Linked DNA regions of Homo sapiens. The protein of the gene in region 5 interacts with the protein of the main gene of each other region in a pairwise test. Each region holds a gene or a part of one and is shown on either strand. Other genes may lie near its edges. The genes, in order: BFSP2, RAB5A, NDEL1, TXLNB, MBIP, PPFIA1 and MIS18A.

Region 1 (4,316 bases), on a different chromosome or scaffold from region 5:
ATTTGTTCCAACCTCCCTGGGTTTTCTCTCTTTGTTTATGCATGAAAGTACTTAACTTGTGACTAGTTGTTGTTGACATTGGATTTGTAACATCTGTGATTTGGGAACACGCTTCACAGAATCACGGTTGGATCATCTGTCTATAGTTTTTGCTCCATCTTCTAGGTGAGTTCTTCATGTGGCCTGAGGTTTTTCCATGGTGACTTAGGACCCACTGCCAACAGGGCATTCATTGGAACCCCAGCCAAAGGTTATATGTGTCTTCCATCTCACCCTTAAAGTCCGAATCCAGCTTCCCCACCTAAGTCCCTGACATTATGGCAGAAAGAGAGGATGCCTGGTTCTCCCAGAGATGCTTGAGCTGGAGTGACTATGATCAGGCTACTGTTGCAGGCAAGTACACTGGCTCAGTCAGCCACGCAGACAGCACCAGCAAACAAGCTGAGATCACAGAAGCACACTTATTCTGCAGGTCTCTGGAGATTTGAAGGGACTTTCTGGGATTGCAAAATCCTCCAGAAAGTAAAATAGTGACCTTCTGTGACTTCTGGCCTTGAATTCCATTCCTGATTTGAGTTGACTGGACACAGAGTTCAGCAGGTCTCAAGCACCATTATTTGTGCCTAGCTTCCAATGCAAATAGTGCCTTATTGGCAAAGGGGGCCGAAAGTCTCGCCAGCTTGGCTGTCTGAAGCTTATATAAGCTGCGGGGGCCTTGTGTGTGCACAGATCGCTCTGACAGAATAACAGGAATGGCTGGATGAACTTCCTGTATCTGAAAACTGTATGAGAGTTTGTTACCTATTTTGTCCCAATCTGTGCTCCTCACCTTGGCTGCAAGGCCCCGTGACCAGAACGATAATCTACTAGAACCAGCAGGGAACAGAGGCAGCCTGTTCTGGGCTATGGGCATAGACAGAATGGCACTACTCTGAAGTTTTCTGGTTGAGAGTGTAAATTATTTTTCCATTTTTTTCCCCAATGGTTAGGACCCTGGGTTTAAGTGAGGTGACCAGGTGGCTGGTGATGCCAACTTGGAGTTACTGTACTAGTAGCTATTATAGCAATTTTATATGATAATTAATAATAGATGGCATTTATTGACTGCTCACTAACTGCCAGGCACTGTGCTAAGGGCTTGACATACATTATCAAATTAATCATCTCAATGACGTTATGAGGTAAATTCTATTACGATCCTAAAGTGGCTCACACTTGCATTGGCAGCTACAACAATTATCTCCACTCCACAATCGCTTTCTCAATGTGACCTTGCCATTGTCTCATCAAGAAGTTGAATTTATTTCTCTCCCTGTTGAATCTAGGATAGTCTTGTGACTGCTTTGACCACTAGAATGTGGTATAAGTGATGTCCAGAGACTTTCGAGCCCAGGTGTTAAGAGGCCTGGTAGCTTCTGTGCTCACTCAGGTGCTATATCAGAAGTTTGACTATGTCAGGCTGTCATGATATGAGGAGGTCTAAGCTAGCTACACGGAGTGGTCACAGGGAGAGAGAAAAAGAGATGCACAATTGAGTCACCAGAGAAGCTAAATGAAGAAGCCATTTTTGGGTGTTCCAGCCCCAGCAGAGGCCACATGATACAGAGAAGAGTTATCCCTGCTGAATTCTGCCTAAATCACAGAATGAGAGAACAAGTGATTCACTGTTGTCTTAAGCTACTAAGACAGTAACTAGATATGATAGCCAAAATAGATCCTCACTTTACAAGTGAGAAAATGAAAGCTGTTCATTCACATAGCTAGTGAGTGAGGAGAGCACCCACCACGAAGTCTACCTCCTGACTCCCACAGCAGGGGTGCTCTCTCCCATCTGCCCCTCCCTCACATTTGTATCAGCTCCTCCACCGAAGCCACATTAACTCTTTGGAGGCAGGGACCATATCTCATTAGTTTTATGTCTCCAAAGCACTTGGTACAGTTCTAGGAACATAGCAAGTTCTCAAAATAATGCTAAGAGTCAGAAGAGCATGCTCATGTGCATCCACACATTGGATCCCCCTAGAAACACTGAGAAGTGGGCTGGACTGTGACTATCATACCCATTTTGCAGAAGAGGAAACTGTGGTTCAGGGATTTGCCTCTTTACCCAAGGGATAAATGGAGGAGCTGAGCCCTTCTGACTCTATTACTCTTGATTTTCCTCCCCTCAGATCCTCAGATCCTTTTCTTATACATGCTTGCACGGACCTACATCCTATCATGCGCCTCATTGACTCCAGGCCATCTCAGCTGCACAAGGATTACATGGACCAACCTTTGATTTGCACCAACGAAGCTGTAGTTAGAACAATGCAAATGACCTCCTGGAGGGGACATCTAAGAAAAGATGTTTAATACCCAAATAGAACTTCAATCCATTCCAGAGATCAGAGGGTGGATTGCTTCATTATTAATACATTTTATTATTTTAATATTTTAATAAATAATTAATAATGAAAGAGACGAGCTTGCAAATCCCAGTGAGTCTGAGAGCTTACTAGATGTCTCAGGTTGGGTTCTCCAGAAGCAGAGCCTGAGTTAGGGATCCTGGAACTCGCAAATCATTAAGGAGTACTCTCAGGAAAAGGGGGAGTGAGGAAAGCAGGACAGGGCAGAGGAAGGCACTAAGCGAGGATGTGGTCTCTGGAATCTGGCTACAGCCTGGTCCTATGGAGAGCTCTATAGCATGGAGCTAGCTCCATGTTGAAGCAAAAGGGCTGGGCTTTTAATTTTAAAGCCCCCTCTTAGTCACTGGCTGAGCCTTGGGGGGCAGGGCCTAACCTTCTGGGCCAGGTGTCCTCAGTGTGGGTAAGGGCAGGTCTCTGGAGCAGTGGGGCAGCTGAAAAGGGGCGGCTGCAGATGTTAACAGTCAACATTTACTGCAGCAGCCTGGTAAGAGATATTTCCGTGGGGCACTACAGTGTCTATTGCACCTGCTGTGATTCAGTATCTGATGATCCTTGGGAGTCAGAAGACATTTCAGGCCTCAAAACTCATATGCTGTGAGATGGGAATCCCCTGGAAACTAAGATCCATAATACTGGAATTTGACAGTAGAGAGTTAAAATTAGCACAAGGACACCAGGTCTTTCCTTGGCCCACTTACCAGGGCACGTAAGGATTCTGTCTCAGCCTGGAGGCTCTGGACTTGGCACGAAGTGTTGTGTAACTCCACCCTGAGGGCAGCTGCCAGCTTCTCCTCCTGGGTCTGGGACATGTGGGCCACCTCCGCCTGTTGCTGTGGAGAGTCAGGTCTCAGTGTGAGCGGTGATGATCAGAAATCTGAGCCCATCCTTCCTTCCCAGCCTTTCTAATCACCACTCCACTGCCTCTAACCAGAGGAAATACAGCTGTCACGTGGAAACATCTTTTTTTTTTTTTTTTTTTTGTTGAGATGAAGTCTCGCTCTGTAGCCCAGGCTGGAGTGCAGTGGTGCGATCTCAGCTCACCACAACTTCCTCCTCCTGGGTTCAAGCGATTCTCCTGCCTCGAGTAGCTGGGATTACAGGTACCCGCCACCAGGCCTGGCTAATTTTTTTTGTATTTTTAGTAGAGATGGGGTTTCACCATGTTGGTCAGGCTGGTCTTGAACTCCTGACCTCAGGTAATCCGCATGCCTTGGCCTCCCAAAGTGCTAGGATTACAGGCGTGAGCCACCACGCCTGGCTGGAAATGTCTTTTTTTTTAAACAGGTCCCTTCACCAACTTGTATACAAAAATGTATTTATTTTGAACATACGATGCCTGCAAATGAAATACAATTCAAAAGATTTCCTACAGACTATAAAGTCTCATTTTCTCCTGTGTCTTAATTATCCAGTTCTCTTGTTTCTAGTTTCTTATTCCTCTTTCCAGAAATAGTTTATATATTTATAAATAAATATGTATTGCCCCCCCCGTGCTTTGGTACTTAAAGTATCTTAGAAATTATTCTATATCAGTACATATTAGGTTGGTGCAAAGGCGATTGCAGTTTTCGCCACTACTTTCAATGGCAGAGACAGCAATTAATTTTGCACCAACCTAATAGAAATTGAGTACATTCTTTATAGCGGCTGCACAGTGTTGTCTTGTTTGGAAGGGCTGCAATGTATTTAGAAGTCTCTGCTGGTGGACACTCAGATTGTTTCTAGTCTTTCTTTCTCTATTACAAACAATGGTGCAAAGAAAAAGCTTTGATCCCTTATTTTTCATACAAGAGCATGTCTTTGAGAAAGTAGTTCTTGTAGTAGAACTGCTGATTAGAAAGGGTATATATTTTTAATTTTGGTGAATAGTGGCAAATTTCCCTTCGGAAAACTTGAAATCCATTTCAG
Region 2 (4,316 bases), on a different chromosome or scaffold from region 5:
GATCTCCTGACCTCGTGATTTGCCTTCCTCAGCCTCCCAGAGTGCTGGGATTACAGGCATGAGCCACCACGCCTGGCCTATAATGCTACTTTCCTAGTGTTAAAATTAGAATCAGGGAAAGTACAGATCCAAAAAATTCTTATGGCAGGGAATGAAAGGTAGGAGCAAATATTGAATCAACTGAACAAATTAAATCTAGGTTAAGGTAATAATGACTACCACAATTAAAGTGTCACAATGTTTTAAAAAATAATATAGCAAGAGGCCTGGTACGGTGGCTCACGCCTATAATCTCAGCACTTTTGGGAGGCACTCCAGCCTGGGAGATAGAGCAAGACTGTGTCTCAGAAAAAGAAAAAAAAAGATAATATAACAAGAAATACTAATTTGGTGGTAACTGACTGGGACTAAATTGCCAGTGTGCGCCAATAAAAACTAGTAAAATGGAACAGGACATGGTGTCAGCAGTATAGATGGTACTTTTAGGCACACTGGGTTTCCCCCAACTTCATTTTTTAAGACTATCAGTGCATTTCTTTAATTGTAGAGCAATTTTGAAATGCAGTCTTCGCTGGGCTTGGTGGCTTACGCCTGTCATCCCAGCACTTTGGGAGGCCAAGGTGGGCGGATCACCTGAGATCAGGAGTTCGAGACCAGCCTGGCCAACATGGTGAAACCCCATCTCTACTAAAACTACAAAAATTAGCCACGTGTGGTGGTGCATGCCTGTAGTCCCAGCTACTCAGGAGGCTGAGGCAGGAGAATTGCTTGAACCCGGGAGGCGGAGGTTGCAGTGAGCTGAGATCACGCCCCTGCACTCTAGTCTGAGACTCTTGTATCAAAAAAAAAAAAAAAAAGAAGAAGGAAAAGAAATGTAGTCTTAAGTTTATTTAGTATTATAACAAGCTTTTTTAAGATGCAGAAGTTTTTCAATCTGTGATTTCACTACAAAGGCCCTATATGTAAGCATATATGTAAATAGCTTAGAAGCACAGGTTTGCCAGTATTTAAAGCTATTATCAGCTGTGGGTATGCAATCTGTCAAGTTTCTAGGTGTTTTCTTTTTTTTTCCCCCCTCATTTATTACTTTTAACTGACACATAATAGTTGTACATACTTACGGGGTACAGTGTGACATTTTGATAGATGTATACAAGCAGGTGTTTTCTATATTATGAAAACATTTGGAGAAAAATGATTGACTTATTGTAGTCCTTTTCTTTCAGCTGCTTTTCTAACCCAAACTGTATGTCTTGATGACACTACAGTAAAGTTTGAAATATGGGATACAGCTGGTCAAGAACGATACCATAGCCTAGCACCAATGTACTACAGAGGAGCACAAGCAGCCATAGTTGTATATGATATCACAAATGAGGTAAGTATGGATGCATTCCACAGTAAAACTAATTTGAGTACCCACTTTTGGTGTTCAGAATTTTGATTAAATGTTTTGGAAAATCTTTTTCTGATAGTCATGACCTTTCTGCTGAAGCTTTTGTGAATTAGAAAATCTGGTTTTAAAAAAAAACGAAAATGTCTCATAATACAATAGTCCTAATAATTTCTTTCCCACAGTCACTTGGGACAGTCTTTTAAAGCCTTGTATCACAAAGATGCTTGGTAACCATTTTTTGAGCCTGTGCTCAATGGCTGTTTCTTTGTTTAACAGGAGTCCTTTGCAAGAGCAAAAAATTGGGTTAAAGAACTTCAGAGGCAAGCAAGTCCTAACATTGTAATAGCTTTATCGGGAAACAAGGCCGACCTAGCAAATAAAAGAGCAGTAGATTTCCAGGTATGTTAAATTTAACTCTCATTTGAAAGGCACTTTTTTCCTGTATGTTTTTCTTTCATGTCAACACTTGAATTAGTTATAATGTCAAAACCATGCAAGTAATAGAAAATACTGATTTTTAAAACAAATATAAAGTACTACATATAATAAAATGTTTCTGATAAACCTAAATTTTTAAATAGATTATTGTAATATATAAACTGACCCAAAGATTTTGTAGACTTAAACAATAAAGGCCGGGTTCAGTGGCTCACGCCTGTAATCCCAGCACTTTGGGAGGCCGAGGTGGGTGGATCACCTGAGGTTGGGAGTTCAAGACCAACCTAACCAACTTGGAGAAACCCTGTCTCTACTAAAAATACAAAATTAGCTGGAGATGGTAGTGCATGCCTGTAATCCCAGCTACTTGGGAGGCTGAGGCAGGAGAATCTCTTGAACCCAGGAGGCGGAGGTTGTGGTGAGCCAAGATCACACTATTGCACTCCAGCCTGGGCAACAAGAGCAAAACTCCGTCTCAAAATAAAAAAGAAAAACAGTAAAAGTAGTCATTGTTCACAGTGCAGAAAGTGATTGTATCCTGCCCTAATTCCTCCATCCCACACATACTTTATGTCCTAACCCTCTTCTACTCATGTGCAAATATGTATCAGCACATGTGTGTACCCCACATATGTACATACGCAAACACTTATGTGGTTGTTCTTAAAGGGGCATTCAAACATAAAGGTTCTGCCAATCTGTATCCAGAGTTGGAAAATAATAAGCTAAAAACTAATAATTAAAAAAAATTTTTTTAAGGCTGAGAAAATCCAGTTTTGTATTACGATTGCTAATTCAGAATGTTTGCTGCTGCAAAATAGGCAAGTGCAATCACTTAAAAACAAAGCAAGTCCTCTATTTAGACTTTTTTTTTTTTTTTTAAGATGGAGTCTTGCTCAGTTGCCCAGGCTGGAGTGCAGTGGCGCAATCTCAAGCTCACTGCAAGCTCCACCTCCTGGGCTTACGCCATTCTGCTGCCTCAGCCTCCCAAGTAGCTGGGACTACAGGCGCCCACCACCACTCCTGGCTAATTTTTTGTGTGTTTTCAGTAGAGACAGGGTTTCACTGTGTTAGCCAGGGTGGTCTCGATCTCCTGACCTTGTGATCCACCCGCCTCCGCCTCCAAAAGTGCTAGGATTACAGGCGTGAGCCACCACGCCCGGCATACTTAGACCTTTTAAAACTGTGCCTGTTCTCTTGCTCTTTGGCTTCTCTACTAGAAGGGCGGTTGTGGCTGTTCTGTATATATCAGTGATGAAATAGTTTTCTTTTTTGATGACGTAGATGGAATCCATGTATTCTTGCATCATTAGGTATTAAGTTGGGCATGTTACATTTGTAATTTTATTTAATTCTTAGGACAACGATGTGAGATGTAGTATCCATTACTCTTTCCAAAATTGTTGCCTTCCCAGCACAAGAGTGGCAGAGAAAACACTTAAATTACAGTCAGAAGTGGCCCTGTCACATAACAGTTCAGAGGAACCTCAGTTGTTTCTTTGTCCAATGGGAAAGATCATTGGTTACCCCTCACAACAGCTATGAGGATCAAAAGTAATAATATATGTAAACTGTAAAAGCATGACAAAAATGTAGGGCAGTGATGTAATTTTCAAAGGAATGATTTATGATATATTCAAGATTATAATATTGCTGTAGAAGTCATTGAAAATTAAATATGAGGTTGTCATTTAGTGTTTGAAGCCAGTGTTAGATATTTGGTTTCCCTTTGTCTTCATTGCAGACAGTAAGTGCAAATAAAAATTGCCGTTGAGATCAAAGAGAGTTTTATTTAGAATAAGATAATTCTCCCCCATCTCTGGAACTCAGTATTTGAAAGCAGATTTAATGTAAGAAAAGATTAATCAAGGTGGGATAATGCAAGAATTTCAGACAAAAAAGGAAATAGTCCATTATAAAATTATCTTGCACAGTGCTCTTACCTCTGTTGTAGCTTATTATATAGTTGTTGATTATAGATGATTATAGGAATCAGGTTGTAGTAATAAGAAAGTCTCCTTTTCTATAACAAGTTTAAAGCAGGTGTAGTGTATTTCCAAGAGATATATCTCATATATCTCATTTTTTGTTCTGTAAACAGGAAGCACAGTCCTATGCAGATGACAATAGTTTATTATTCATGGAGACATCCGCTAAAACATCAATGAATGTAAATGAAATATTCATGGCAATAGGTAAGATTAATATCTCTTTTTAAATGATCAATATAAGCAAAACAAGTGTGAAGCATATTTGGTTTGACTGTCTCTTTTTTAAAAAATTTTTGGGGGTGGGTTTGTGTGTATGTTTATGTGTGTGTGTGAGAGAGAGAGAGAGATTATACCACTTTTCTAAGTCCCTTCCACAAAACAATATTTTGTTGGTAATATTGTTAAATTTGAAAGATGATTACCTATTAGGTTGTAATACTGTCAGTTTAGGCAGCTTCTTCCAGGTGAGTTAAGCCTTAACCTCTTAACCT
Region 3 (4,316 bases), on a different chromosome or scaffold from region 5:
GCAGGGTCTCATTTTGTCACCCAGGCTGGAGTGCAGTGGAGTGATTACAGCTTACTGCAGCCTCAACTTCCTGGACTCAAGCGATCCTCCCACCACAGTCTCACGAGTAGCTGGGACCACAGGTGCATGCCACCACACCCAGCTCATTTTTGTATTTTTGTTAGAGATGGGGTTTCAGCATGTTGTCCAGGCTGGCCTTGAAGTTCCAGGCTCAACTGACATTCCCACCTCAGCCTTCCAAGTGCTGGGATTAATATGCGCGAGCCACTGTGCCTGGCCAGAATCTGATTTTTAAAAAGAGTAAATCTGATGGGTAAAAGTAGGGCAATAGAGCTGGATAATACCAGTTAGGAAGCAATAAAGATGAGGTGTGACCACAAAGTAAGAAGTTTTTGCTTTGTTCTTTTTTTTTTTTTTTGAAACGGAGTCTCTCTCTGTCACCCAGGCTGGAGTGGAGTGCGGTCGCGCGCTCTCGGCTCACTGCAAGTTCTGCCTCCCGGGTTCACGCCATTCTCCTGCCTCAGCCTCCCGAGTAGCTGGGACTGCAGGTGCCCACCACCACGCCCAGCTAGTTTTTTGTGTTTTTAGTAGAGACGGGGTTTCACCATGTTAGCAGGATAGTCTCAATCTCCTGACCTCGTGATCCGCCCGCCTCGGCCTCCCAAAGTGCTGGGATTACAGGTGTGAGCCACTGTGCCCGGCCTTTTTTTTTTTCTTTTATTTGAGATGGAATCTCACCCTTTTGCCCAGGCTGGAGTGCAGTGGCCAATCTCGGCTCACTGCAACCTCCTCCTCCCGGGTTTGAGCGATTCTCCTGCCTCAGCCTCCTGAGTAGCTGGGATTACAGGTGCCGGCCACCATACCCAGCTAATTTTTTTTTTTTTTTTTCATATTTTCGGTATAGACGAGGTTTCACCATGTTGGCCAGGCTGGTCTTGAACTCCTAACCTCAAGTGATCCGCCTGCCTCAGCCTCCCAAAGTGCTAGGATTATAGGCATGAGCCACCGCGCCTGGCCTGCTTTGTTCGCCTGCTTTGTTCTTAATGTGGCTCATAAAGGCTATTCCAAAAAAGAAGTTTTGGAAATGTTTTTCAGCAATGGTGATATCACTGGAATATGCATATATTCCTGAAATGATCAGTTTTAAAGAATCATTTGCATGTTTTAAATTTTGAAGCCTGTTTACTTTGTGGTCATACTTGAAAGGTCTGCTATCGAACTACCAATTTTTAATAGCTTGATGAACATTTAGGTTTTTACTATGTGCCAGGTTCTGTCCTAAGTACTTTACAAATATTAGCTCACTTCATAAGCTCATTCTAATGATTATCCCCATTTTACAGGTGAGGAAATGGGGCACTGAGTCATTAAGTCACTTGCCCAAGGTCACCCAAGTAGTGAGTAGATGCATCAGTAGCGAGTCTGAACTTCCAGGTCTGACTTCAGACTTGGGCAGTTTGGCTTCCCGGTCTGGGCTCTTAACCACTATGCTATGCTGCTCCTATGACTTATTCTTGGTTAAATGTTTTAAATTGTTTTGATCTGGAAGAGATGATGGTCCTTTTAGTAAATGATATCCAACATAGGTTATAATACTGTTAGAGGGGCCAATAAGCGGGTTATGAAAATAGCCTATTGATTAGAAAAGTTGTGGTCAACATTCAATTCACATGAGATTCAGCAAGAAAATAAAGAATGTGACCAGGCGCGGTGGCTCATGCCTGTAATCCCAGCACTTTGGGAGGCCGAGGAGGGCAGATCACGAGGTCAGGAGTTCGAGACAGCCTGGCCAACATGGTGAAACCGTGTCCTACTAAAAATACAAAAATTAGCCAGGTATGGTGGTGGGTGCTTGTAATCCCAGCTACTTAGGAGGCCGAGGCAAGAGAATTGCTTGAACCTGGGAGTCAGAGGTTGCAGTGAACTAGGATTGTGCCACTGCACTCCAGCCTGGGCAACAGAGTGAGACTCCATCTCAAAAAAAAAAAAAAAAAAAGAATGTGTGTGAAGTAAAATAATTTTGCTAGAATTACTTGACACTGAATGTAAGTAGTTGGACAAAGAGGATGCAAGGGCTAGAACTAGATTCTCAAAAAGTTTCATGCAAAAGGCTATTTAAAAACCTGAGTTATCAGGGGACACTCATGGAAAAGTTGGTGTTGTATTAAGAATATGTCCCTGTACAAGAACCAGAAGTCAGAGACAAATGGATACTCGCAATACATCCAGAGGGGTAAACAATGCTATTCCTCAGGGATTACTACTTAACTAGGTGCTCTTCAAAGCATTAACTGCTAGTATGTCCTCTGATACTATATAAATGGGTCAAAACCAACAAAAAATACCCCCACATGGAAATGTTTTGAAGTGGACTCCTGAATAACATTTAGAGATTCAAAACAATCCTAACTCTTTTCGTAGAAGAATTGGCCCCACATTCAAACACCTTCAAATAAATGTTAGATGCCAAGGAAGGTATCTAACAGTCATTAGGAACTTCCATAATGATACCGGTTCATGGGCCACACTACTAGCAATATCATCAAATGCTGCACAGTAACAGAAAGAGTACTGAAAACTCAAAAGAAAAATGATCTGACCAGTGAATAAAATGTTCAGTACAGAAGCAGCACTAGGCACTCAGCCCCAGAAAGGCAGATAGGTAATCTAGGGGCAATACAAAGCATAACAAAATATTTAAGGGACTGAGATGGCTGCCAAATCATTATAGGCTAAAAAGGCAAGAAATAATCACTTTGGGAAGACCAAGGCTGAGAGGTATTATCATCAAAGGCTACAAAACCAGAGGGGACATAAAAAAGGAGAATACAATTTTGTTCGCCAAATCCTGGAACCTTCCAAGAGAGCAGCACATGGGACTCAGGGCAAAGCTAAGACCAAAAACAGGAAGTTCATCGATGGCTATAAAGTTATGGAACTTATCCCAGTTGCTTCAAATAAGATAAAATCAATACATTACAAGTTTTAGACTTGAAATCATTAACTTACAAAATGCTTTATATAAGGATCAGGACTTTCTTCTATTGCTTTTTTTATTTTCCTGAGCTTTTAAATTTCTCTTTTTCTTAGTGACAGTAGAGTAACATGTCTTCACCACAACCTCAAATATATCTAGCTTCTCACTTGTGCTCTATGCTATCTGTTCTATGGGATTCCTTATTTTTCTTGGTGTCATCCGTCTGAAGCATTCTATGGGCCTGATGGACTAGGCTTCATCCTGGGACTTTTCATTGCAGCCCTAGGTTGGAGCCCCTATTTCCTGCATCCCATGCTGTCCAGGTCATGGTTTTCTCCCTTCTTTTGTACTTGTCTCAGGAAGTGTGTAGGAGGTAGCCCTCCTGACCTTTTTTTTTAAGTCTTTGTCTAGTACCTTCTGAGTTCTTGTATAAGAAAAAATCTCATTTCCTGAATTGTCTGTTTCCTCTCAGTTCACTAGGTCCTAAAATTTTCTTATTCATGCTACTGGGTTTTCTTACTTGTCAGATGGCTCTTGGTTGTCCATTTATATTTCAGGGCCGGATAATGATGATTTGAGGTAGCTAGTGTGCAGTGGTTATCTCTAAGGTTCTTCCCAATAAATCCCATCAACTCCCTATTCTTTGATGTGGAGCCTGTACTGAGCCTATGTCAGTGACTGAATGTGGCTGCCCATGTATCGGATTAATAATTTTGTCTAACTGATAATGATAGGTTTTCTAATATTGATTTAATATATGGTGGTACATTGTAAGGTGGAAGTAAACTACCCGCACATCTTTTTGCTTACTCCATTCCTGAAGTAGGAATTCAGATGTTAATAAAGTGGTACTTTGAAAGTCAAGAGGGAATATTGAAAGGATGATTATAAATCAGTTCACATATTTATTTATTTATTTTAGAGACAGGGTCTTGCTGTGTTGCCCAGGCTGGAGTGCAGTGGCACAATCATGGCTCACTGCAGCCTCAAAATCATGGCTTACTGCAGCCTCATTGCTTCTGGGCTCAAGCAGTCCTCCTGCCTCAGCCTCCCCATGTGTTGGGATTACAGGCATGAGCCACCGTGTCCAGCCTCAATTCAAATATTTATTGAACTTCCACTGTGTTCTATGTTTGATGATGTGGAGAGATTTAACCGTTCATTCCTTTAAAAAGATTTTTTTTTTTTTTTGCTAAACCTTCCTGAGTGGCTTGTGCTAGATAAACTCCAAGTTCTATGCATCTCCAGGTTTTTATTTATTTACTTTTTTTTTTTTTTTTTTTTTTTAGATTTTTAGACGGAGTCTCGCTCTGTCCCCCAGGCTGGAGTGCAGTGGCGC
Region 4 (4,316 bases), on a different chromosome or scaffold from region 5:
CCAGACCTTGACAGGGAGGAGAGTTTACAGAAGCAGATGGAAGGGGAGAGAAAAACCTTGAGGAAAATTATTAGTACTCTCTTCTGACCAAGGTAGGGAGTGGATGGATGAATATTTTACTGTTTTTTCTAATATTTTTATTTTTGTTATTGGTAATAGTGTATACACATCATCACTGTTGACCTAATAAGAACTCCAGATCCACTCTCCTACTGAGTGAGAGGCCAAAGTTCCCCTACAAATATGACAAGGCCACTGAAAGATAAGAAATAGAAAATGTAAGCCAAAGGGAACAAAATCTGACAAGAAAACACAGGCTAGGTGGTATTTTCGAAACTGATAGAGGCCTCTCGTGGGTAAAATCTCTCTCGTGGGTAAAGTCACTTTCCCCTTGGCATCTGAAATGAAAGAAATGAAAACAGATTTCCCATTATGCAGCCCACAATGACTGGTACCAGTCCGTGGCCTGAGGGTTGGAGATATCTGCTGCAGAACACCTTGGTATGGAGGAGTCAAACATTGGTCATCATGGCAGGTTTGCTTTACGATGGCATCACTCTTGCCATGCAAGGGGCTATTTTCCTACAGATATCGCTATGATGCTAAAACCCATTGCTACAATGCTTTCAAGAAGGCCTAAATAATACATTCAGGTAGCATACTTCACCCAACTAGGATAAAATTAAAAGAACTCAGATAATAACTTTTAAGTATCTTCAAGTTCCAAAGTGCAGGGTTGGAATCACTCTAGTGTTTTGGAACATGGAAAAACATAATAAAATTGCTCTGTGTTACAGAGCAATTTTTTCTTCTCTGACAAAACATCTCAAATGTGTCCCTTTGCAAAGTTAGTCATTATTCAAGTTTCCGTAAGACAATATACAAAATCTCATTCCAGAGGTAAGCAACTTCAAGTGTTCCTAACCAGAAAAGTTATTTTTCAATCACCCTAAAACTTTTACATAAGAATTGGGGTGTGTGTGTGTGTGTGTGTGTGTGTGTGTGTGTGTGTGTGTGTGTGTTGAGGGGAAAGATATGAAGAAAATAGGGATAAAGTTAAAATAACCAATTTGGGTTTCTACTCTCTTCCATGAGTTATTTCATAATCTGCATTAACCTTACAATTACCAAATAGTCAGGATGATGTTTTTAAAAATTCCAACTCCCTAATTCTGCCGCTATTTACGATACCAAATTCCAACTGACTGTGTTTGACCAAAATCAATGCTTGTGGATTAGAGTACCTAGGTGTGTCCACTCTAATTGAGTATGTGTGGGCTCATGACCTTTCTGTGCCTTCCCACTCATCATCATTAGCATATTATTTTAAACACTGTACTATTTAACAGCTACATTATGCATGAAAACAACATTTTTAGGCTAACCTCAACTTGTAACCACCATTTTAAACTTTCAGTTGTTTGCAAGTAGCTTTGGCAGCCTTCTTAGCTACTTTTCAGTTAAATGGTACTGTGCTATCGTCTAGACTAATGGTTTTCCAACTTAACTGTTTATTAGAATCAATTGCAAAATTTGTGAAAAATGCTCCTCCTGAGCCCCCACACACAGATATTTGGAGTTTGTAGGCCTGGAGTGAAGCATGATCTAGTTTCTCAGTTCTTTGAACATGCTATACGCCATCTCCCACAAGGCCTGTGCACATTCTAGTTTCTTTGCCTAGAAATTTCTACCTATCCTCACGTCCTCAATGAGTACTTATTTATTTATTTTTATTTATTTACTTTTTTTCTTTGAGACAGAGTCTCACTCTGTTGCCAGGCTGGAGTGCAGTGGCGCGATTTCGGCTCACTACAACCTCCAGCTCCCTAGTTCAAGCGATTCTCCTGCCTCAGCCTCTCGAGTAGCTGGGATTACAGGCATGTGCCACCATGCCCAGCTAATTTTTGTATTTTTAGTAGAGACGGGGTTTCATTGTGTTGGCCAGGATGGTCTCGATCTCCTGACCTCATGATCCACCCGCCTCGGCCTCCCAAAGTGCTGGGATTACAGCCGTGAGCCACCGCACCCGGCCCACAATGAGTATTTATTAATGCCTAGTCTTTATGATGCACTGTGCTAGGTGCGCAAAGATAAATAAGTCATGGCCTTTAGTCAAGGATCTCTAGGTAGAGAGGAAGAAGAAGACACATAAGCTAATTGTCATATAGTGTAAGTGCAAGAGCAGGAACAGGAAAATTTTTAGGCGAGCATGGGAGATGTTCACCCTGGGTAATTTTGACACAGATTGTGGAAGCAATGGTTCTGATTCTTCAGAAAGTGTTTTCTCTGCTCTTTTGGAGAAAATATAAACATCTGGCTGTGGTCTCCTTTTATAACCTATTTGGACCTCTTAGAGAATTTTAATAAGTCATTCAACCCATATCTGAAGATATATTCTTAGATTTTGCTTATGTACTTGATCAAAGATGTCTTTAATCATTGTATTTATTAGATGCTATTTGCTTTATTGGCACATTTGAGATGCTAAAATGTTTTGACTCTCTACTACAACATTTTCCAAAGTGTGTCTACTTTGGGATGCTTGAGATTTCACAAAGTTAAACAGTTTCTTTACTGCCAGAATTCTCTGACCTTTACTGTATACACAATGAAGATCTAAAATAGTGATGGGCATAGTTTCCATCATTTCCAAAACTTATTGACTGATTGGATCTATGAGAGACATTTTTTTTTTTTTTTTTTGAGACGGAGTTTCGCTCTCATTGCCCAGGCTGGAGTGCAATGGTGCGATCTCGGCTCACCACAACCTCCGCCCTCCGGGTTCAATCGATTCTCCTGCCTCAGCCTCCCAAGTAGCTGGGATTACAGGCATGTGCCACCACTCCCGGCTAATTTTGTATTTTTAGTAGAGACAGGATTTCTCCATGTTGGTCAGGCTGGTCTTGAACTCCCGACCTCAGGTGATCCGCCTGCGTCGGTCTCCCAAAGTGCTGGGATTACAGGCATGAACCACCACGCCTGGCCAAGGCTTTTTTTTTTTTTTTTTTACAGAACACCTTGAATATTTGGGAAATGTCTCTACAACCTAAGCTCCCAGGACTTCTTTTTCCTTTTGAGGCTGCACTTTCTCCTACAATAAACGCAGTACTTACCGGAGCAGTTGGGGGAATATTTAAAAATCTCTCTCGTGGGTAAAGTCACTTTCCCCTTGGCATCTGAAATGAAAGAAATGAAAACAGATTTCCCATTATGCGGCACCATGCCAAGTTCACATCTAAAGTATCCCCTTTGTTCTCCTACTCGCATCCTCCAGGCTCAGAGGTATCTCTCATTTATCACTTCTTTGACAACATTATGTGGGCTGGGAGAAAAACAAAGCTCATTCACAGGGCTATTCTGAGCTCAGAATCCATCTAGTCAACCTACTAATTTTATAGACAGGGAAATTGAAGCCTAGGGAGTTTCAGAATCCACCAAAAAATGTTACTCATCTAGTTGATGTGATTGTGAGATTAGTCATAAAGCAAGGGATGGACTTTGTGTCACTGACATCGCAGGACCAAAGTGGTACAGAAGCAAGCATCATATTGGTTAAGGAGCATTTATTACACCTCAGTTAATGAATTTTGTCTTTCTAGTTACAAGTGAGCTTCAGTGGTACCTTCTGAGAGGCTCCTGACTAGGACATCAGTATTCTGAAATGTCTTCAGACATCCATTTACATAGTCTTCCTTTATTTTTTGAGACAAAGTCTCACTCTGTTGCCCAGGCTGGAGTACAGTGGTGCGATCTCAGCTCACTGCAACTTCCACCTCCCAGGTTCAAGCGATTCTACTGCCTCAGTCTCCCATGTAGCTAGGATTACAGCCACGTGCCACCATGCATGGCCAATTTTTATATTTTTAGTAGAGACGGGGTTTCACTGTGTTGGCCAGACTGGTCTCGAACTTGTGACCTCAAGTGATCTGCCCACCTCACCCTCCCAAAGTGCTGGGATTGCAGACGTGAGCCACCGCGCCCGGCCCCTAGTCTTCCTTTGAACGGTCCGGTCACTCTCCCAGATAGTCTGTTTCATCTGTTTTAGCTTGATTTCTAGTTTCTCTGAGAGAGTAATAAACTGCAGCTTTGATATTTTCTGAAGGAGATGGTATTTTCTGAAGGAGACTAAATTTTCTGAAGGAGATGATAAGAAGACCAGAGAAATTCAAGGGAAAGAGGAATAAGCAGAGACAAAGCTTGACAGGTAGATTCATAGAGAAGCTAGAACCTAGACCAGACCTTGACAGGGAGGAGAGTTTACAGAAGCAGATGGAAGGGGAGAGAAAAGCCTTGAGGAAAATTATTAGTACTCTCTT
Region 5 (4,316 bases):
CCTCTGGGCTTCCCATCTCCCACTCGTTGTGCTGCTTTAGGATCTTTATACTCATGCCCTTCTGTCCATGCTTTTTCTTCCTAATCCTAGACCAGTGCAGATTCACCTTTTGTATAATCTTATATAGCACCTGGTATTCCCTGCTCCCCTTTAAAGCAGTTATCATGGTTCTGTTTGTTTAATGTCTGTCTCCTGCTAGATAGTCCGTGAGAGTGCAACTATGTCTGTCATATTCATTTCTTTGTACCTATTACAGTGCCTGGCACAAAGCAAGTGCTCAAATGTTTATTGAATGGACAGTTGCTTATTTCACCTTTGCAGATGTATGTACGGAGGGACAGAAAGTTAGTGTTTGACTCTCTCAGGGTAGGTCAAGGGATGATGGCATCCTAATGAAGTGACATTTGAGGCCTTGAAGGATTAGTAGGAATTTTCCAGAGCAAAGCATTCCAAAAAGAAGAAACACCATTTGCAAAAAAGGACAAAAACACAAAATATGGTTCAGGAGATATCTGAATCCAGTATAGCTGGAGTATACTAGCTATCTGAAGCTATGCTAGCCAGATGAAGGTAGAAGAAGAAAACAGAATGAGTAAGTCTTTGAGAGTAATAAGACACTGGCATTAAGAATTAATCTCTTCCCTCAGAAGTGGATGGGTTTAAAATGCCACTGTATAAAAGGATTGACTGGTTAAGTCTCTAATAATAGTATGAAACAGTTAAGTTTTTGGAAAAATATCTGTTGAATGTTTACTATGCTCCAAGCACTATTTTAGGCACAAGGGATACTGAGATGATATAATCATAGTCCCCAGCTTCAAGGACTTTATAATCCAAATGAGAGAAAGATTAATAGTGAAGTAGAGTTTTAAAGGAGTAATGAAAGGATGGGTGTAGTGGTGTGTGCCTATAATCCCAGTTCCTTGGGAGGCTGAGTGGGGAACAGAGCTTGAGTCCAGGAGTTTGAGACCAGCCTGGACAGTATAGTGAGAGTCTGTCCCAAAAAACTCAGGAGCACTGAAGAATGGTGGGGGCACAAGGAGCCTTTATGCGAATGAAGAGGTTTCGGCAGTGCCTGCGTTACCCAGTGAAGCTTGAACTGGCTCTTGAAAGATACAGAAGTAAGGCAGAGGACATTGTAGGTAAAGGGAGCAGCAAAAGCAAAGTCAAATGAACAAGTTAACTTATTTAAGAACAAGAACAACCAAGGTCCTAAGATTTCTTAAAATCCTCAAAATTTCTAGAATTTTTACATAACAAGTTGACAATTTTGATATAGAAATTTACCCGTATTCTTTAATTGCATAATGATTGGCTAATCATGTATTCATTCAGTCAGTAAATATCAAGCACCAGCTCTTTGCCATGCATTGTAGTCTTATGAACTGATGCTTCCTAGGTTTGTGCAGTGCACAAGCTGCACAGCCCTACCTAATGAACAAAACAGATAAAACTCTGTCCTCTTGGAGCTTATATTAGAATGGGGAAACAAATAATACAGAAAGAAAATATACTGAATGTTGGGTGGTAGTAATGGAATGGAGAAAATTAAGGTAAGGAGGATAAGGGAGTGCTGGGTAGGGGAGTGGTAGTACTGGTATTTTTAACAGAATAGTCAGAGAAGGTGTTACTGATAAGGTAACTTTTGAGCCAAGACTTGAAATTGACTTGGGATTATGGCGGTAGAGGGAACCAGCTGAAGCTTACAGGGTGCTTGGCCTCTTTGAATAACAGAAAAAAAGTAATCAAGTGGCTGGAACCATGTGGGCATAGGGAGAATATCCACATTGTGTATGGCCTTGTAGGCCATTGTGAGGGCTTTGGTATTTAATCTGAGTGAAATGATCAGGTATTGGAAGGTATTTAACCTCAGTGAAATGATCAGGTATTGGAAGCAGAGAAATGATGTGATCTAACTTATATTTTTAGAGGATCACTGGCTCCTGTGTTGAAAATACACTCTACGGAAGCATGGCAGAAACAGGGAGACCAGTTTGGGAGTTGCAGTAATCCAGGGAGAGGTGGAAGTGGTCTGGACCAGAAAGGCCACAGTGTGGAGGGGGTGAGAAGTAGAAGGATTCTTGATATAATCATAAATTTAAAATTTGAGTGGCCATAATTTACTCTTCCCCTCCTCAGAAAGTTTGTTAGTTTAGAATTATGGTAAAGCCCCTTTTTTACATTCTTTTAGGTCAAAGGAAAAATATGGCATGTAGGGAGAAATATTAATTGAAGAAAATAATATGACATATTGCAACCACTGCATTGAATTATCGTCATTTGTCACTATGCATTTTTGTCCTCCCATGTAACTATCAAAGCATATCAGAAATATAAATTGTTCTACATGGAAGCTATTCAATATCTTGTAAAATGAATTTAACATGAAACTCCTAGAATATAGGAAGCATAAATGGGGTTTGGAGAGAGGAAGTGTAGTACAATATGTCCGATAGTGTATAATACAAAAATACGACCTAAGGACTTCATTCTGTTTTACTTTTGTTTTTTATTTTCTTAAGTATTTTCCATTCCTTTGCATAAGTGTCTTTGCATGGTATTTTAAGAATAAAAATTGTGAAAAGAAAGAATTATTCAATAGTATCTCAGATTTTTTTTTAATGTATTTAGGTGGTCCAGTGCCAAGAGACATTTATCAGAGAATTAAAAAACTTGAGGATAAAATCCTTGAATTGGAAGGCATCTCTCCTGAATATTTTCAGTCTGTAGTGAGTATAAGTGTCTTTTAAAAATAAATGAAAATGTTATTGTATTCTGGATTCTTTGTGGTTTAACAGTCACTCATTGATCTATAAGCAAAACACTATTTTAATAATTCAAAGATGAATGAACACAGTCCTGTATAGGGGATATATCTAATTCCTTAAAATCTCTGGTTCTGAATATTTTTAAAATTTAGAATTTTTAAAAAGGGATACTTCTATTATATATTACCCACATTCTCAAACTTAGGCCATTTTCATGGCATAGTAAGTCAGCCTGGGTGGTGGTTGGGCCTGTTACTCTGAACTTGCTACCTTGTAAAACAGAGGCTTCCTCTGTAACCTTGCTCTTTCAGTGATCCCTCTGCCTCTTTAATCTCTCTTCCCCAACAGGCTCCTTCTCTCAGCTCATATGCAGTTAATACTAAACAAACACACACCTCAAGCTGCCACTCTTATTCTTTACCTTAACCACCAGACTTTCTATGTTTTTGTAATTCCTTAACTCTAGCATTCATTCATTCTTACCCCGTTTTCCAAGAACCTTAAGAAACAGTGTTGTGCTGGTAAGTTAGTATCTTTGGCACATCAACATTTTTCAGAAAAATGATCCTGAGCTCATTGTGTTTTCCTCAGTCTTCTGAGGTGATTATGTATAATACCTGCCTTCTCTAAGTTTTGTTTTTTTTTTAAAGCAGTACCATATTAGAACTAAAATAATATCAAAGTGAGATTATACCAAAACTCCTATTTCTGAAAAATTATGTGAGATAGCCCATTTTAGCATGGATCATATAAGTTAGTGGTGAAAATATATTTAAAATTTATTTTAGGTATGACAGCAATCTTCCAAAGTTATAGATTGAGTATAAGAGTGAGTTACAGAAAAGAAGTATTTCCAGAAGAAGAAGGCAGGTCACGTAACAAAAGGGAGCAGCAAGTCCTAAATGACAAAATTTCAGAGAAGAGTTTTAGTGATTTACTACTCTCAAATGTAAAATGAGGTTTATGAAAATACTAAGGGCTGAAGCAAAGATCAAATGAGATAATGCTGATCAAACACTTAGCATACTGCTTAGCACATGGTAAAAACCTCATTGGCATTTATTTAGTTTTATAACTACAAAGTAGCTGTATAAACGTGGAAAAGTCACTCTATTCCTCTGATCTTCAAGATGTCTAATTTTAGAAAATGTATTGGTTGTACTACATAATTACAAAGGTCTTTTCACTTTTAGGATTATTCTTTGAATGTCTTCCTAGGAGACTTCATAAAGATTTTTAATGACTTTTCCTACAGTAGTCTACCATAAGTTTTTCCCATTCTAACTGCCTTCATTAAAGAAGGCAATAACCTAGGAAAGTTATTTTTCTAGTTCAATTTCATACCTTGTTAATATAATTCTTATTAACGATAGAACCGATCTTACAATAGAGTATGGTAAAATCAGATGCCTCCAATGAGAACTTGCTGCAGCATCATTCCTCTCTTCTCTCTGATTCTGATTTATAAAAACTTAACAGAGGCCGGATGCAGTGGCTCACGCCTGTAATCCCAGCACTTTGGGAGGCCAAGGTGGGCGGATCACCAGA
Region 6 (4,316 bases), on a different chromosome or scaffold from region 5:
TTTTTTTTAAAGTTTCTTTCTATTCGAATAACTAGCTGTCTATAATCAGGGTGCCAACTGAACAATGAGTGCAGACACAGACAGGTTTGGCGTCACCTGTGTGTTCTGCGTCGGGATCTGTAACAGCAGTGCCAGTGCACTGAAGTCGAAGGTTTCATCTAAGGCCAGAAGTGCTCCGTGAACACCACTCTCTATAAGATTGTTTGCATATTCTTTAAGGCCAATTGACAGGATCCAGCGAATCACTCGATCATTGCTCCAAACAAGCACGTCTGCAAAAGAATAAAGACAATTATAAAAGTGGCTTCAGAAAGCCATCTTTATCACATGTACCCTGTAATGCAGGAGAAAGATTCCTACCATGGTTCCTAATCCTTCGGCTCCTGAGAAAAGTGCTGGGAGACACTGCTAAATAGACAACCATTTGCTGCACTGAGACAATGGTGTCCTGGCCCTGCTCCACTCTCAGGGAGACTCTCCCATTAGAACTCATCCTTCCAGTGAGCACGAGAGGAATGAAGTTATTATTTCTAGAGAAAAGAAGATGATGAGGATCCAGGGATCAGAAGCCAGAGGACTGCAAGAACTTGAATACCTAACATGTATAAACATGCTTCACACACAGACTGGAGAGTCTTCTGAAATACTTCATCACGGATGGAGCTGGCTCCATAATAATATGAACACTTTGCTCAATTCAACAGAAACCTCTCATTTCTAATCTCGAAGTCTTTGTCTCATTTTAAAATGAGAGAAACTTAACAATATCATCCAGCACATTAGAGACTTTGCAGAAAATCTTTTTTTTTCCTCTCTTTTTCTTGACAATGTCCTGCTCTGTCACCCAGGCTGGATACAGCCTGGTACCATCATAGCTCACTGCAGCCTCAACCTCCTGGGCTCAAGTGATTTTTCCCACCTCAGCCTCCTGAGGAGCTGGAACTACAGGCGTGTGTCACGAAGCTCAGCTAATTTTTTTGTACTGACAGGGTCTCACTATGTTCCCCAGGCTGGTCTTGAACTCATGGGCTCAGACAATACTCCTGCCTTGGCCTCCCAAAGTGCTGAGATTACAGGCATGAGCTACCATGCCCAGCCACAATATCTTATGCAAATTAACAAATTATTCAATTTGCTCTATTAGATCTAAAAATAGCCACTCTAAAAATATATGCAGATGATCACCAATCACTTCCAAAGACACTTCCAAAGATCTTTGTCTATTGGAAAAAGATGTAAAATAGATACAGAAAACAAAACAGATGGACATATTTCATTGCCAATGCCCTTTTCTGGATAAAAGTCCATACATATACACACACTGTATAAATGTCGACTTACGACTTTTCTCCTGATTCACATTAACTCAATCACAAGTAGACTTCCCTTCAACTGGGCCATCTCCCAACCATATTTTTATCCTTAGTTTCTTTCTTAGTATAAAGTGGGGATGAAAACAGCACTTAGACTGACAGGGCTAAGGTAAAGATGAAAGAAAGCAACCCCTGAGTACTTAGAACACCACCTGGCACCTACTCACTGTTAGTAAGACTGGCCTCTTCTTATCATTATTGTTATTGGTGACTTCCTTGCATTCCAGGAATTCTGGGAGTCATTACTCTGAGCTTAATGTTTACTGTCTAATTTTAAAAGCAAATTCTGACTGGGTGTGGTGGCTCACACCTGTAATCCCAACACTTTGGAAGGCCAAGGTGGGAGGATCCCCTGAGCCCAAAAGTTCGAGATCAGCCTAGGCAACATAGCGAGACCCTGTCTCTACAAAAAAAAAAAAAATTCCAGGCATGGTGGAGCACACCTGTACTCCCAGGAGCTACTAGGGAGGCTAAGGCAGGAAGAGCACTTGAGCCCAGGAGTTCAAGGCTGTAGTGAGCTGTGATCACACCACTGCACTCCAGCCTAGCCTGGGCTACAGAGCAAGACCCTGTCTCAAAATAAATTAAATAAATAAATAAACAAACAAACAAATAAATTTGAGTACGAGTGAGGGACTCCCCAACGGAGAAGAGAACCAACTCCACGTCTTCTGGATGAATGTCTCACATCCTCTAACGCCTCCCTGGCCTGTGTTTTCCAACTGAAATGCCTTTTCCTTACCCTAAGCAGCTCCTCCTCCTTCTTCAAGGACCAGCTGAAATGCAGACGCTGCCTCTCCTTCCCCTCCGGGAGCAGAACTGCACGGTGCTCTCCTGTTCTCCTGAACCCCTTGGATAAGCCCCCAGTCATATTTCTCACACTTGAATCATCAAGTGAGCTTTGCTCTGTTGTTATCTAACAGTGTGGAACAGCATTTCGGAGTGAAGGAGTACACAGGGCATGACCAAAGGAAAACTCTCAACTCACAGGAAACGACTAGCCGGAGACATTTAACCTCCAGACTGATGTGTGAGAACACAGGGAACAGTTCTCTAGCTGTGGAAGAGAATCTCAAAAGCACTCAACTTCATCCAGCCCTCCTCTGCAATGACACTAGACTAGTTAGTTTTCTCCACTTAAATTTAGCCTTTCTTGATTTTTTGAAAAATAGGAAGTCACTGAGGCTCCAAACACACCAGCAAGTAGGAGTAAACCGAATCAATTAAATGTCATGTACTAACCTTTTATTTCACTCTGACTTTCTTCTCTTTTTCTTTCCAGTTCTTTCCGGTCATAATTTAACCTTCTCAGGCACATAATTCCACACTGGAAACTGTTTCTATTTGGAAGAAAAGAGAGATGATTTAGAGATGGTAACAGTGAAAAATCTTAGCCAATTATTAAGAACTATCTCCATTAAGTTACCTGTGAAAACTGTCGACCATTTTCAGCTGCCCTCGAAGGTCTTTCTTGGTCAAGTGGTCCAGCATCCTGGCGTCTACAAGGCACTCCATGAAGTAGCTGCGGTACTGGGGGAGGCCCAGGCTGGGGAGCCACTCGTTGCCGATCCACTCGTGGTTCATGTCCCCATAGGCGAGTGTCTGCTTTTCATAAATGGAAAAGGTCAGTTACAGAGGAAGTCTCAAAAGTAGTTTATATCATTTTTAAAATGAATTTTTAATCTATTACCTATATTCTCAAAGGCTAAACTAATGATAATTTTATAATTGCAAAATAATTTGATCTCTTCTCACCTTTTAAATTTGTTAGTAAAATTTTTATACAACAGGAATAGTAACATGAAAAATATATGATTCGTTGTGATAAATTTAACTTTTAAATCAAACTACAAAAAAACTGTAACTGGCTATAAATTTCCTCTCTGAGATAGTTTTTAGTATAATAATGTGACAAAGATTGATCACGACTCATGAACAAGTTTGAAGGCTCAATTCAACACTGCTCACTAAAATTATCTCTGGTTGGTTTACATTTTAACACTTTGTTTTCCTAAAGAAAAAATCCATTTCAAAATCAGTAAAAGTCAGTTAAAATATAGTTTTAGAGAAGAGATAAAGCAACAACCAACAGGACTAAATGGGGAAACAGGCAAATTCACAATTATAGTTGAAAAAATTCAACACTTCTTTCTCATAGCAACTGATGAAAGAAGCAAAAAAAGAAAAAAATTAAGAATATAGAAAACCTAAACTAACAACCCTTAACAAACTTGACCTGACGTTTCATAGAACACACCACCCAACAACAGAATATAGAACACTCCACCCAACAATGGAATGTAGAACACGCCACCCAACAACAGAAGATAGAACACGCCACCCAACAAGAGAATACAGAACACGCCACCCAACAAGAGAACATAGAACACGCCACTCAACAACAGAATATAGAACAATCCACCAAACAACAGAATATAGAACACTCTACCCAACAACAGAATATAGAACATGCCACCCAACAACAGAATATATATGCTTTTAATGTCTGTATAGTATATTCTCAAAGACAGACAAATCTCAACATACTTAAAGAGACTGAAATCAAGGTACATTCTCTTGACTTCAACAGAAATTAGAAATCAATAATAAAAAGCTATCTAGAACCCCCTACTAAATATTTAAAAATTAGCATACTTCTAAATAATTCACAGCAAGAAATTACAAGGGGAAATTGCTCCCTCTGTCGCCCAGGCTGGAGTGCAGTAGCGCGACCTCGGATCACTGCAACCTCGCCTCCAGGGTTCAAGTCATTCTCCGGCCTCAGCCTCCCGAGTATCTGGGATTACAAGCACAAGCCACCACACCTGACTAATTTTTGTATTTTTAGTACAGACGGGGTTTCAACATGTTGGGCAGACTGGTCTCAAACTCCTGACCTCAAGTGATCCACCACCCACCTTGGCCTCCCAAACCGCTAGGATT
Region 7 (4,316 bases), on a different chromosome or scaffold from region 5:
GAAAGGCTCAGGCAGGTATCAAAAAATTCACAAGCATCCCAAAGCAACACGGGAGTGTGCAGCACACAACCCTAGTGAAGTCCAAGACAACTGAAGGCAGTCTAATCGATGGGTTTAGGTGATACAAACAGTATTAATAACTCTGGATCAAAGAGAGTGAATTCTCTATCAATCCTGATTAGAAAAAAGAAGAAAGTCTCGGTTTGGTGCTAGACTGTCTTTGACACTTGTCTCATAGTCGCAAATCTTTTAATAGTAACAGAACAGACCTCAGGCAGAGAACCAGCCAGGCAACAACATCTCAGCTAGAACTAATAACATTTGTTTTCACTGTAATTATCTTCAGAGTTACTTTCTAGTTATGGCAAGTATGTATTTATGATAGTAAAAACAATCCTTTTAAGACAAATTTAAATAAAAATTTTGAGTTGATTTAATTTTAAAAATTTAGTATGTAATAGCACAGTTGGTACCTGGTACACAAATAGGACAAAAATGATGGTGATATCAAAATGGCTAGAGCTAGAGCTAGAAAGTGGAGAAGAAAGAGCACTTCGAAGGCAGTAAGGAAGGGTAACAAGCATCATCCTAGCTCTTACTGCTAATTAGTCCTGTGACCTTAGCAAAGTTCTAGCCTCCCTGGGCCTAACTTTCTTCAACTACCAAATGAGAAATGATCTGAGGTGGGTTTTCCAAATTTTTATGGCCTGCATGCCGGCACCACAATTTCTGTCACATCCACAAACCATCTGTACTATTACTAATTTATCTTAAATGGAGAAACTTTTTTTCTTTTTTTTTTTTTTTCACTTTTATGGAAGAGATACATAGGGCAAAGGTTACAGAAGGGGGACACAGAGCTTCCAAGACCTTTCTAGGTACACCACCCTCCCGGCATCTCATATTCACCAATCTGGAAGTTCTCTAAAACCCATGGGTTTTTTGGAGGTTTTATAACACAGGCATGATTAATTACACCATTGCTGATAATCTCTAGCCCCTCTGCCCTCGATGGAGGTAGGAGAAGAGGTTGGGGTAGGGCCAAAACTTCCAACCCTCTAATCATGCCTTGGTCCTTCTGGCCCCCAATCCTGAAGCTACATAGAAGCCCCCCAGCCACAGTCACCTCATTAGGATTAAAAACGACATTATTATCACTCCAGAGATTCCAAGCATCTTAGAAGCTCTTCTGTCAGAACTGGGGACTAAGACCAAACATGGTAACAAAAGATACCCTTATCACCCCATCACTCAAGAAATCGAAAGGGTTTTAGGAGCGACTAAGTATTGAATGTTTCTGTCCCCTACCACATGTATAAGTTGAAATGGTAGCTCCTAATGTGATGGTATTGGGAGGAGGGGTCATCAGGAGGTATTTGGTCATAAGTGCACAGAGTAATTTTTTTTAAATTGAAATATACTTTATTTGATAGGATACTCTAGCATCACTAAAAATGAAAAGCCAGTATTTTTAATACACATTAAAATATACACATAATTAATTTTTGTTTAACTGTGTACCACCTAAAGTTATTTCATACGCAAGTGTAAGATACAGTTTACATTTGCAGCAACAATTATATAGGGCAGCGCTTCCCACTCAGTTTGCTCAGGCGTCACTATGGCACATGGGTGGCAGGTATGGCAAGATATTTGTCCCCTCTACCCTTAAAGTGGCCACACAGGGCTTCAGATTGCTGGAGCTCCTGTGTTGTTTGCTCTTGCCACAAACAGCCTTGTCTGTTTACCCCAATAGGCTGTGTGTGTGACAGCAGCATTTTATGTGTGTGCCATAACATGAGAAAGTTGGGCAGCATTAGCCTAAGGCACCCTTTAACATTGAGATTTTATAATATAGGTATTTCCTTTTCTTCTTTTTTTTTTTTTTTTTTTTTTTTTTTGAGACGGAGTCTTTCTCTGTTGCCCAGGCTGCAGTGCACTGGCGATCTTGGCTCACTGCAACCTCCACCTCCGTAGTTCTAGTGATTCTCCTGTCTCAGCCTCTTGAGTAGGTGGGATTACAGGCCCGCACCACCATGCCCGGCTAATTTGTGTATTTTTAGTGGAGACGGGGTTTTGCCATGTTGGCCAGGCTGGTCTCGAATTCCTGACCCCCCGGTGATCTGCCCACCTTGGCCTCCGAAAGTGCTGGGATTACAGGCGTGAGCCACCGTGCCCGACCTTCTTTTTCTATTTTTATTTTTGATTTTCTTCAGCACCAAGCCCAAAGATCCAAAAAGGGAATGTCAGCATATGCTTTTAGAAATCTAGAAACTCTAACTTTTCAATATCTAAAGGTGACCACAACCACTCAAGAACTAACATATTCCTTTCTAAAACAGGATATAGAAAAAGCAAAAAAAAGAACTGATATATGCGAACGACTGATTTTTTTACTATCATGAAAAGTTTTATCCCAAGTAATCTTACTACTAGTAATGACCTTTTAAAGATTTTTATTAAAGAAAATTCTCTAACATATTCATATAAATACAGTTTTACTCACCAACCATTTTCCTTTTCACGTTTGGATAGCTTCTGTTCCTTATCCACAGAAACATTACAGGAAACACCTAGAAACAGAGAAAGTAACAATAATTTATTAATGTAGTTCGTTATAACATACCTGCAGACAGAGAGTTTCTAATCCAACTTTTTAGAACTCGGAGGACAAAAAATAAGCCCAAAGTCAAACACACAAAAGAGCGGTTTAAAACTAAATGTACTGGGGTCTTCTGGGAAAAGATAGCAGAATAAGAGTTATTTCCAACCAGGCGCAGGGACTCACACCTGTCATCCCAACCCTTTGGGAGGCCAAGGTGAGAGAATGGCTTGGGGCCAGGAGTTCGAGGTCAGCCTGGACAACATAACGAGACTCCATCTCTAAAAAAAAATTTTTAAATAAAAATTTAAGAAAAATTTTAAAAGGTTATTTCCTCCCTTTCCCTGAAAACCACTAACATTAATAGAATGGCTAAAATTAGAGGGGAAAATTCATTCCACAGTAAACTTGGAACAAGTAGAACCTCAAATCACACACTGCAAAGAATTATCTGCCAGATAGTGAAATTGGGTTCCAAACCTAGGAAGATGCAAACAGCCAACACATATATCTCCAGATTTCAAACACAGGGCCCATTTCTCTAAAAGTAACTGAGAGGGTCCTCAGGATCCCAGCCACACATCTTTTACTTGAACAATGACTTGGACAGAGGTCACTGCTGGACTTCAGAGGCAGCAGCAAACATTCCCAAAGAATCCAGCTCTAGGAAACACTAAAGGACAGGGTAGAGGGTGAAGAGAAATGAAGAAGGGACATCTGACCTAAAATGGCCAAAACAGACTCTTGATTTCACGGCCTCCTACAGTCTACCTTAACTCGGTAAACTCCAACTCCATCTACCTGCTTGCTGAAATCAGAAACCAGGGTGTCATCCTTGATTCTTTGTCTCCTCATCCTGCTCCCCTGTATCTACTCCACTGATCCATCCCATCAATTCTACCTCACAAACTTCACTCCAGCCCCCAAACCACCAGCACCACCTCTTGCCTGGACTACTGCCCTGGCTCTTCACTAACCTCCCCACTTCCATACTTGTTCCTCCTTCAATGCTTTCTCCAAAGAAAATGCGGGGTCACATTACTCCCCTGCCTAAGCTAGCATAATAACGTACTCACTAGAACAGATTACTACTCTTTAGAACAGACTACAACGCCTTGCAGTTTCTGATCTCTTCCTTCCTCCCTAAATCTTATCTTTATTCTCTTTAACCAGTCTCAAGGCTTTTGCACCAGCTGCTCAGCACCTGTCAAAAGCAAAGAGCGTGACCAAGAACTGTACCTGCAGCCAAGCTAGCATTCACTTATAAATACAGGAAAATAATCCCAGCACTTTGGGAGGCCGAGGCAGGCGGATCATGAGGTCAGGAGATCGAGACCATCCTGGCTAACATGGTGAAACCCCGTCTCTACTAAAGATACAAAAAAATTAGCGGGGTGTGGTGGCGGGAGCCTGCAGTCCCAGCTACTCAGGAGGCTGAGGCAGGAGAATAGCGTGAACCCGGGAGGTGGAGCTTGCAGTGAGCTGAGACTGCACCACTGCACTCCAGCCTGGGCAACACAGTGAGACTCTGTCTCAAAAAAAAAAAAAAAAAAAAAAAAAAGGAAAATATTTTCTAGCACATAAACTTGAAATTTTCTTGGAGATGTGGACGTGGGGAGCACTAATGATTAATCAAACAATTCAGGAATGAAAAAGCTATTAAGAAGCTTTTTTATGTTAATGAGTACTGGAGTTGGGAAAACAATTTATATAA

What was found.
Region 1: the proteins of MBIP (region 5) and BFSP2 interact in binary tests that used the Homo sapiens proteins (3 or more experiments, as listed by UniProt).
Region 2: the proteins of MBIP (region 5) and RAB5A interact in binary tests that used the Homo sapiens proteins (3 or more experiments, as listed by UniProt).
Region 3: the proteins of MBIP (region 5) and NDEL1 interact in binary tests that used the Homo sapiens proteins (3 or more experiments, as listed by UniProt).
Region 4: the proteins of MBIP (region 5) and TXLNB interact in binary tests that used the Homo sapiens proteins (3 or more experiments, as listed by UniProt).
Region 6: the proteins of MBIP (region 5) and PPFIA1 interact in binary tests that used the Homo sapiens proteins (3 or more experiments, as listed by UniProt).
Region 7: the proteins of MBIP (region 5) and MIS18A interact in binary tests that used the Homo sapiens proteins (3 or more experiments, as listed by UniProt).

The regions. Positions count from the first base shown.
Region 1 is NC_000003.12:133,465,750-133,470,065, reverse strand, and holds part of BFSP2 (phakinin), read right to left. Parts: intron 3,239-4,316; coding exon 3,107-3,238; intron 1-3,106.
Region 2 is NC_000003.12:19,974,375-19,978,690, forward strand, and holds part of RAB5A (ras-related protein Rab-5A), read left to right. Parts: intron 1-1,226; coding exon 1,227-1,378; intron 1,379-1,672; coding exon 1,673-1,795; intron 1,796-3,935; coding exon 3,936-4,029; intron 4,030-4,316. UniProt on the Homo sapiens protein: The small GTPases Rab are key regulators of intracellular membrane trafficking, from the formation of transport vesicles to their fusion with membranes.
Region 3 is NC_000017.11:8,438,537-8,442,852, forward strand, and holds part of NDEL1 (nuclear distribution protein nudE-like 1), read left to right. Parts: intron 1-4,316. UniProt on the Homo sapiens protein: Required for organization of the cellular microtubule array and microtubule anchoring at the centrosome. May regulate microtubule organization at least in part by targeting the microtubule severing protein KATNA1 to the centrosome.
Region 4 is NC_000006.12:139,281,964-139,286,279, reverse strand, and holds part of TXLNB (beta-taxilin), read left to right. Parts: intron 1-359; exon of another isoform or gene 360-398; intron 399-3,113; exon of another isoform or gene 3,114-3,176; intron 3,177-4,316. UniProt on the Homo sapiens protein: Promotes motor nerve regeneration. May be involved in intracellular vesicle traffic.
Region 5 is NC_000014.9:36,306,505-36,310,820, reverse strand, and holds part of MBIP (MAP3K12-binding inhibitory protein 1), read left to right. Parts: intron 1-2,631; coding exon 2,632-2,729; intron 2,730-4,316. UniProt on the Homo sapiens protein: Inhibits the MAP3K12 activity to induce the activation of the JNK/SAPK pathway. Component of the ATAC complex, a complex with histone acetyltransferase activity on histones H3 and H4.
Region 6 is NC_000011.10:70,370,874-70,375,189, reverse strand, and holds part of PPFIA1 (liprin-alpha-1), read right to left. Parts: intron 2,998-4,316; exon of another isoform or gene 2,979-2,997; coding exon of another isoform or gene 2,976-2,978; coding exon 2,800-2,975; exon of another isoform or gene 2,714-2,799; coding exon 2,616-2,713; intron 273-2,615; coding exon 97-272; intron 1-96. UniProt on the Homo sapiens protein: May regulate the disassembly of focal adhesions. May localize receptor-like tyrosine phosphatases type 2A at specific sites on the plasma membrane, possibly regulating their interaction with the extracellular environment and their association with substrates.
Region 7 is NC_000021.9:32,272,324-32,276,639, forward strand, and holds part of MIS18A (protein Mis18-alpha), read right to left. Parts: intron 2,574-4,316; coding exon 2,507-2,573; intron 1-2,506. UniProt on the Homo sapiens protein: Required for recruitment of CENPA to centromeres and normal chromosome segregation during mitosis.